Homo sapiens: one gene and its partner. The gene in region 1 interacts genetically with each later gene. Each region holds a gene or a part of one and is shown on either strand. Other genes may lie near its edges.

The links. Genes that interact genetically often act in the same process or in processes that back each other up.
Region 2: changes in PRKCZ (region 1) and AMHR2 together harm fitness more than expected from each alone (negative genetic interaction), as found in Homo sapiens cells (one large-scale study listed by BioGRID).

Annotation. Positions count from the first base shown.
Region 1 is NC_000001.11:2,056,145-2,061,598, reverse strand, and holds part of PRKCZ (protein kinase C zeta type), read right to left. Parts: intron 5,116-5,454; coding exon 5,026-5,115; intron 2,059-5,025; coding exon 2,008-2,058; intron 1-2,007. UniProt on the Homo sapiens protein: Calcium- and diacylglycerol-independent serine/threonine-protein kinase that functions in phosphatidylinositol 3-kinase (PI3K) pathway and mitogen-activated protein (MAP) kinase cascade, and is involved in NF-kappa-B activation, mitogenic signaling, cell proliferation, cell polarity, inflammatory response and maintenance of long-term potentiation (LTP).
Region 2 is NC_000012.12:53,426,654-53,429,513, reverse strand, and holds part of AMHR2 (anti-Muellerian hormone type-2 receptor isoform 1 precursor), read right to left. Parts: intron 1,638-2,860; coding exon of another isoform or gene 1,581-1,637; intron 619-1,580; coding exon 504-618; intron 62-503; coding exon 1-61. UniProt on the Homo sapiens protein: On ligand binding, forms a receptor complex consisting of two type II and two type I transmembrane serine/threonine kinases.

The sequences.
Region 1 (5,454 bases):
GGCTGAGTGGTCCCCGAAGCCGTGGAGCCACCCCTGGTAAACATCTCAAGGACCTACTCACGTGTCCCAGGAGGTCCTTCCTCGGGGCTTGGCCACATTCTCCGCATTCCCCACGGTGACTCGGCTGCCACCCCCATGACACACTCCCCTTCAGAGCTCAGGCCTCTGGACATCCTGTGACCCCCCAACCTCCCCTTCCTCCACTGCAGTGGCCGAGCAAATGCGGGCCTCCCTTCCCTACGCAAGGCCGGCAGGTTGTCCACACGGGCAGAGAGGCAATGCCGAGGTCGTAGACAGAAAGAGCAGACCCCAGGCCCCCAGGCAGGGTTGAGACAAGAGGCAGACATGTCGGAGAAATACGGTGGGCTTCCCCCGCGCCCAGGGGCTACACTGGCCGCATGTGGATACCTCTGGGAGTGCACAGTCTCAGCACACATGGGACAGAGGAGCACAGTCCTGTCACCAAGTCAAAAAATCACCCAGGTGGCAAATAAACACGGCCCGTGGGTCCCCTCCTATAAAGCAGCAGCATGAGGCTGCAGGGCGCTGTGGAGGGGACAACCATCGTCTCACCCACAGGGAGTATCTGTCCTATTTATGTGTTTATGTATCTATAAAAACGCAGTGAACCGTGCCCTCCCAGGGTGCGTGCTCCAGGGTCCGTGAGGCGTGGGCACCCAGAGGGAGGGTCCCGGGAAAGGTCACCACCAGGGCAGCTGCGTAGGTGATCAGGGCCCTGACGCCCACCGTCTGGCCACCTGCCTCCAAAGCCTCCCCGCCCCCTGCCTCCTCACACTCGCCCTGCGCTGCCAAAACCACCTGGTGGTGTCCGCCTGCCACGGACATACCCCATCTCCTCCTGCCGGCAGGTCCAGCCCCAGACCACCCGCTCCATTCCTGCCAGGGCCCACCTCCGGATGGCTCCTCGGCCTTGCCGGCCACGGTGCAGGGACCCCGGTTGGCTGAGGGCCTGGAACCGGGATGCCACGCCGCCCTCTCCCCGGGCAGATCATGGAAATCCCATGGCTCCTGGGGCCTCCCCTACGCTAAGCGCTGCCAAACCTCTATTCAGCCCCACTTCTCGCTGGAAGCCGAGACTCTCGCCCCCTATGCTAAGCACTGCCAAACCTCTATTCAGCCCCACTTCTCACTGGAAGCCAAGACTCTCGCCCCAACTGCCCACTCACCCTCTTGGCCTGAATCTGCTCCCACCCCCAGTTCCCGCCCAACACAGGGCACTGCCAACACCCAGCATCCAGCCTGAGGCCAGCGAGGTGTGTGCCCTGGCAGCAGGGGTGGGGGAAGCCCTGCCTGAAGGGCACTGAGCCACGTGCCCTGCGCTGGACAGGCAGCGGCCTCGGTCCAGGAGCTCCTGCCCACACAACGAACAAGGCATGGCACGGATGCTGGAGGCCGTGTGGGGTCTGGAGAGTGGGGGTGGAACCCCACCAAGCACAGCCATGGGATGCGCGGCCCGAGAGCAGCGTAGCCACCTGCTCAGGGCCCAACAGTCTCCGGGATGCAGTAGGAAGTGAGGTCAGAAGCTTCCCTCTGAAGCCACAGCCCCCGGGACTCACTCTCCTTCCTCTCCCAACAATGGAGCCAGTGTGGGATGAACGGAGCCCCCACACCAGCTCAGGGGCCAGCAGGGACCAGGAGGAGCAGACGACTGGCCTAGGGGTGGTCGTGAGCTGAGGCAGCCACAAAGGAGCAGTGTCCAGCCTCCCACCTGGCCCCTCCCTCCTAGGGAGACGGCAGGGCACCCCTGGACTTCTCATGCTACCAACCAGCCAAGCGAGTCCCCCGCCATGTGGTGCTGTCAGCCAGAACACGCACAGGCAGCAGCTGCAGTGAAAACCCCACCTGCGGTCACCACGGCTGCTCCTGCCCTGACGCTCCACGAGGGTGAACCTCCGAAAACGGCACCACTGCCACCTCCGTGGCACAACGGATCAACAGTTCAACCCCGTAACATGCGAGACCGGCGTAGGAAACCCCAGTACTCACTGTCTTCTCCCGGACATGGCAGGCCAGGCTGCTCAGGGGTGCTCGGGAAAACTGGACAAGAGAGAGAAAGAGACAGCGTCAAGACCCTGCGGCTGCCACTCAACAGTCTCACGGAGGAAGTCCCGCCTCAGTCAGGCTGAGCACGTGGACTTCACGCAAGGCGCACGTGGCACTGCCAATGAGAGCCCGCTCCTGGGAGACGCAAAACCCCGTGCGTCTACGTAGGCCAGGCTCCGACTTTAAAACCCACGGAAAAACTTAGAGTAAAAGGCAATCAGAGGGACCTGGACAGCAAAGCCATCAGAGGAAGCTACTGATTTGTATTTTTAAACTATATAAAAATGGGAAAGAAATGCAATTACTTTGAACACTGACTTTTAAAAGCACTTTAGATTCCACTTCTTCATACTCAAGACAGAGTTCAAAATTATTTTAACATATATCCTGGGCTTCCACAATAAATTATTAAAATAGGTGCTTAGAAAGTATTAAAACTTGGCTGGACATGATGGCTCACGCCTGCAATCCCAGCACTTTGGGAGGCCGAGATGAGAGGATGGCTTCAGGCCAGGAGTTCAAGACCAGCCTGGCCAACATGACGAAACCCCATCTCTACTTTTTTATGTGTGTGTGTATACACATAAAAGTATTGAAACTTTAAAAAAACAAACATTTTTTGTTTTTTGTTGGTTTTTTTCAGATGGAGTCTCACTCTGTGCCCAGGCTGGAGCTCAGTGGCACAATCTCAGCTCACTGCAACCTCCACCTCTCGGGTTCCAGCAGTTCTCCTGCCTCAGCCTCCCAAGTAGCTGGGATTACAAGTGTACACCACCACGCCCGGCTAATTTTTGTATTTATAGTAGAGATGGGGTTTCACCATGTTGGTCAGGCTGGTCTTGAACTCCTGACCTCAAGTGATCCACCTGCCTCGGCCTCCCAAAGTGCTGGGATTACAAGTGTGTGCCACTGAACCCAGCCCTATTTTTCTTTTATCTAGAAAACAATGTGAATTTTTAAGCCACTGTATCTTTCCACATAGAGAGGCAAAATGTGCTTACTATCACAACCACAATAAAAAGGACTAGATTAGGCACATCTATGAATTTATTTATCTGACACAGGGTTTCGCCCCATCACTCAGGCTAGAGTGCAGTGGAATAATCACAGTTCACTGTAGCCTCTACCTCCTGTGCTCAAGGAATCCTCCCACCTCAGCCTCCCGAGTAACTGGGACTACAGGTGCACCACCACGTCTGAATATCAAAAAAAAAAAAAAAAAAAAAAATTGGGGCCGGGCACCGTGGCTCACGCCTGTAATCCCAACACTTCAGGAAGCTGAGGCAGGCAGATCACCTAAGGTCAGGAGTTTGAGAACAGCCTGGCCAACATGGCGAGACCCCATCTCTACTAAAAATACAAAAATTAGGCCGGGCACCGTGGCTCACGCCTGTAATCCCAGCACTTTGGGAGGCTGAGGCGGGTGGATCACGAGGTCAGGAGATCGAGACCATCTTGGCTAACATGGTGAAACTCCGTCTCTACTAAAAATACAAAACATTAGCCAGGCGTGATGACACATGCCTGTAGTCCCAGCTACTTGGGAGGGTGAGGCAGAAGAATTGCTTGAACCCGGGAGGCGGAGGTTGCATTGAGCTGAGATCGCGTCACTGCACTCCAGCCTGGGCGACAGAGCGAGACTCCAACTAAAAAAAAAAAAAAATTAGCCAAGTGTGGTGGCACATGCCTGTAGTCCCAGCTACTCGGGAGGCTGAGGCAGGACAATCGCTTATATCTGGGAGGTGGAGGTTGCAGTGAACAGAGATAGTGCCACTGCACTCCAGCCTGGGGACAGAGCCAGACTCTGTCTCAAAAAAATAAAACAAGTTTTGGAGAGGGGGGGGTCTCACTATGTTGCCCAGGTTGGTCTTGAACTCCTAGGCTGAAGCGATCCTCCCACCTTGACCTCCCAAAGTGCTGGGATTACAGTTGTGAGCCACCGCACCCGGCCTAGTCTTTAAATTTAGAGCCTCATTGATATAAAGGGCGAAGAAAATTAAGTGTTGTAACCAGGTAGCCCGGTGTCCAGGAGAATGATGGATCTGTCAGAAATCCATGGGTGGTTTCGAGCTTTGGTCCCATCTTGGACTCAATCGTCCATGGCCAGACGCCTGGCAAGGAGCCCAAGCTACGCCAGAAGTGGACACAGAGACAAAGACGTGACCGGCTGGCCACAGCGCTGGAACCACATTCCCAGGCCCCAGACGCCCTGCAGACCCCCAGCAGTACCGGGGAGGAGCCCACGCCCACCTAAAGACAAAGTGGAAATGATCACAATCACATCTCCCATGCGTCAGCTCATCATGGGGCTTTGAACTTAAAGCTGAGGACAGCTGTGAGCCTGGAGCCGGGCCTAGGGAGCACCGGGCAGGTGAGGTGGCTGGTGGGGCTGTCCCCTCTGTCCACATGCGCCGCGGGCCCTACGCTGGCCACTGGAGCCTCTGAGTGGTTTACGGGTTCTTTGTTAAGAGCAGTTTTCATTTGGGTTAATAAAATGTCAAAGAAAAGGCCGGGCGCGGTGGCTCACATCTGTAATCCCAGCACTTTGGGAGGCTGAGGCAGGCAGATCACGAGGTCAGGAGACTGAGACCATCCTGGCTAACACGGTGAAACCCCGTCTCTACAAAAAATACAAAAAATTAGCCGGGCGTGGTGGCGGGCGCCTGTAGTCCCAGCTACTCGGGAGGCTGAGGCAGGAGAATGGCATGAACCCAGGAGGCGGAGCTTGCAGTGAGCTGAGATTGTGCCACTGCACTCCAGCCTGGGCAACAGAGCAAGACTCCGTCTCAAAAAAAAAAAAAAAAAGTCAAAGAAAAAAACCCAAATGGCATTATATTAGACATCCCTAAATTCTCTGGCATCATAGGATTTTAAACCATTTTAAATCCCCCAGCTAGTCGGCAGACACCCACAGCCAGGAACAGCCCCCCAGAGCTGCCCACCACAGACCCCGCCACTAACCATGAATGATGAGGCCTTCATCCCTGCACTGACGGGCCAGGCGGAAAGCCTCTTCCAGCTCCATCTGGGAGGACACCGTGCAAGGGTCACCTGGGTGGGGCAGGAGACGGTGCTGACGTCGCCGAAGGCCCGAGGCAAAGGGGGCTGTGACGAGCCCGCTCAGCACACCAGACAAGGGTCTGGTGGGGGGCAAAGTCCCGATGCTCAGACTGGCCACCTCCTGGCAGGGTCGGGAGGTCCAAGGACGGCCGTCCACACTAGGGAGTCACCTGGCCCCCGGTGCAGCGTCAGAGCCACCCCGGAAGGGAAGTCAGTACACCTGCAGCCCTGGGCACCACTTGGAGGGCTAAGCAGTGAGCGGGGCTGAGGACACTCTCCGGAGGTCAGTCCTGGGCGGAGGGAGAGCTCCTTGCCCTCTATGGCTGGAAA
Region 2 (2,860 bases), on another chromosome or scaffold:
TCCCGAATGAGCACATTCTGGCTGCTCAGATCTCGGTGGGCAATACCTGGTTTATATTGGCCTGTGGGGGAATCCAAGGTTGAAGGAACATGGATTTTCTTCCTCCCTCTTTTTTTTTTTTTGAGTCGGCGTCTCGCTCTGTCGCCCAGGCTGGAGTGCAGTGTCGCGATCTCGGCTCACTGCAACCTCCGCCTCCCGGGTTCAAGTGATTCTCCTGCCTCAGCCTCCCGAGTAGCTGGGACTACAGGCACATGCCACCACGCCCGGCTAATATTTTGTATTTTTAATAGAGACAGGGTTTCACCATGTTAGCCAGGATGGCCTCGATCTCCTGACCTTGTGATCCGCCCACCTCGGCCTCCCAAAGTGCTGGGATTATAGGCGTGAGCCACCGTGCCCGGCTCTTCCTCCCTCTTTTGACCCAATCTTTCCCCTCCAAACTAAGGCAGAATCACAAACATAGCACTGTGGCTCCCTTGACTTCCTATGCCCAGCTCACCCACCATTCTGCCAGCGCTCCTCATGGAGAAATGCCAGGCCCTGGGCCAGGGACAGTGCCATCCGCAGGGAACTTCCCCAGTCACTGGTGTACTGGGTCAAGTAGTGGCACAGGGAGCCCTGGGGAAACGCAGAGAGAAAAGGATGGTACACAAAGCTGGAGACGGCTGATCCATCCCAGGGAGCAGAGATCAATTGACAGTCTTCTCCCTGCATCTCCCCAGCAGACAGACACACTGATGGATGCTGGCCAAGACAATAGGTAGAGGAGTAAGACTGTGCATCAATTGACATGAAAAATAGTAACTCTAGATCAAGGGTACTGGGCACTTACTGTGGTCCAGACCCAGTGGATGTGGCCTCCTGTAATCCTTGTGAAAACCCTAGAAGGTAGGTGCTCCTGTCACACCCCCATTTAACAGATGAAGAGCTTTTCCTTACAGAACTAAGGAAACTCTCTTGAAGTCAGTCGGTGAGGCAGGAGTGGAGCTTGAATCCAAGCAGTCTGACTCAGGATCACTTACTAATAACCACCACCTTATACTGACTCAGAAGACATGCGGCAAAGACAGTAACAGAGGAGGCAGGGCAAGCTAGTCAGGGGCATCCTTCATGAGTCACCTTGTCTGAGGTGTCAGGCATGTGTACACATAGACGGGCAGAGCCAGTAGATAACAGAGTAGCAGGTGGAGGGCAAGTGGGAATTGGAGGGAAGGGAGCAATAGAACCCCTCATTCAACAAGTGTCATCGAGCACCTTCGGTGGCCACGAACTGTGTTCAGGCACCAAGATGGCTCAGGGAAGGTAAGAGATAAAGAATGCAGTAAACCCCAAGATAGGAAAATTAACCGAGTGCCAAGGGGCATAAAGCAAGAATGACTAACCCTGCCTGGAGAAGTCAGAGAAATTAAACAAACAAAAAAACAGTGATTTTTGAGCTGGGCCAGGAGGTATATGGTCAAAGAAGGGACTTTCCATCATTCAAGATTTCAGAAGTACAGAAGCTGTAGGTGCTGAAAAAGTTCAGGGAAGAGCCACTGCATTTGGGCTCTGAAACAGGTGGTGGAGGTTGAACTACTTACAATAGGGCAAAGTGAGTTGTGGGGAGCTCTTCCACGTGGACAGAGACACACACAGTCCTGATGGAGGGGTAAACAGGAGGCAATAGACACGATGATGAGGAGCCAGCTCTAGAGTCACATAGATTCTGGGCAAATGACTTTCCTTTTCTGAGCCCCATGTGGATAATCATTCCTATCTCATAATGTGTTTGTGAAGGGTAAGTTTGGAAATGTGTTTAAAGCGTGTAGCATGGCCGGGCGGGGTGGCTCACGCCTGTAATTCCAGCACTTTGGGAGGCCGAGGCAGGCAGATCACTTGAGGTCAGGAATTTGAGACCAGCCTGGCCAACAGGGTGAAATCCCGTCTCTACTAAAAATACAAAAATTAGCCAGGAGTAGTGGCGGCACGCCTTAATCCCAGCTACTCAGGTGGCTGAGGCAGAATTGCTTGAAACCAGGAGGTAGAGGCTGCAGTGAGCCAAGATTGTGCCACTGCACTCTAGCCTAGTCAACAGAATGAGACTCTGTCTAAAAAATAAAATAAAATAAAATAAAATAAAAAGCGGGTAGCGTAATGCCTAGCAGGAAGCAGATGGGAAATGGTATGAAAACTTAAAAAGCCCCAAATATTTAACAGGCCCACAGGGCCTGGTGTGGCTGGCCTCTGCCTACCTTTTCCTCTTCTTGTTGCTCATTGCTCTCCCCTTCAAGTCACATCTTATTATTCTTATAGTTCATTGGCCCTCTCTCCTAGCACTTAGCACACTTGACATTTGACACTCGTGTTTACTTGATCCATTTCTGTCTCCCCTGCTAGTCTATAAAATCTGTAAAAGAGGGACTGTGTGTTTTTTGTGGCCTCTAGCATAGTGCCTGACATATAGTTCATACTTATTTGTTGAATGAATACGAATGAGTTTGGAGGGCTGTGCCTGAAGATATTTCTTTAACAATTTTTTTTTTTTTTTTTTTGGCTGGGCACGGTGTCTCACACCTGTAATCCCAGCACTTTGGGGGGCTAAGATGGGTGGATCACTTGAGGTCAGGATTTTGAAACCAGCCTGGCCAACATGGTGAAACCCCGTCTCTACTAAAAATGCAAAAATTAGCCAGGCGTGGTGGCAAGCGCCTGTAATCCCAGCTACTGGGGAGGCTGAGGGAGGAGAATCGCTTGAACCTGGGATGCTGAGGTTGCAGTGAGCCAAGCTTGTGCCACTGCACTCCAGCCTGGGCAACAGAGCAAGACTCCGTCCTCCCACCAAAATAAAATAAAAATATATAAACATGTATTGTTTATGTAA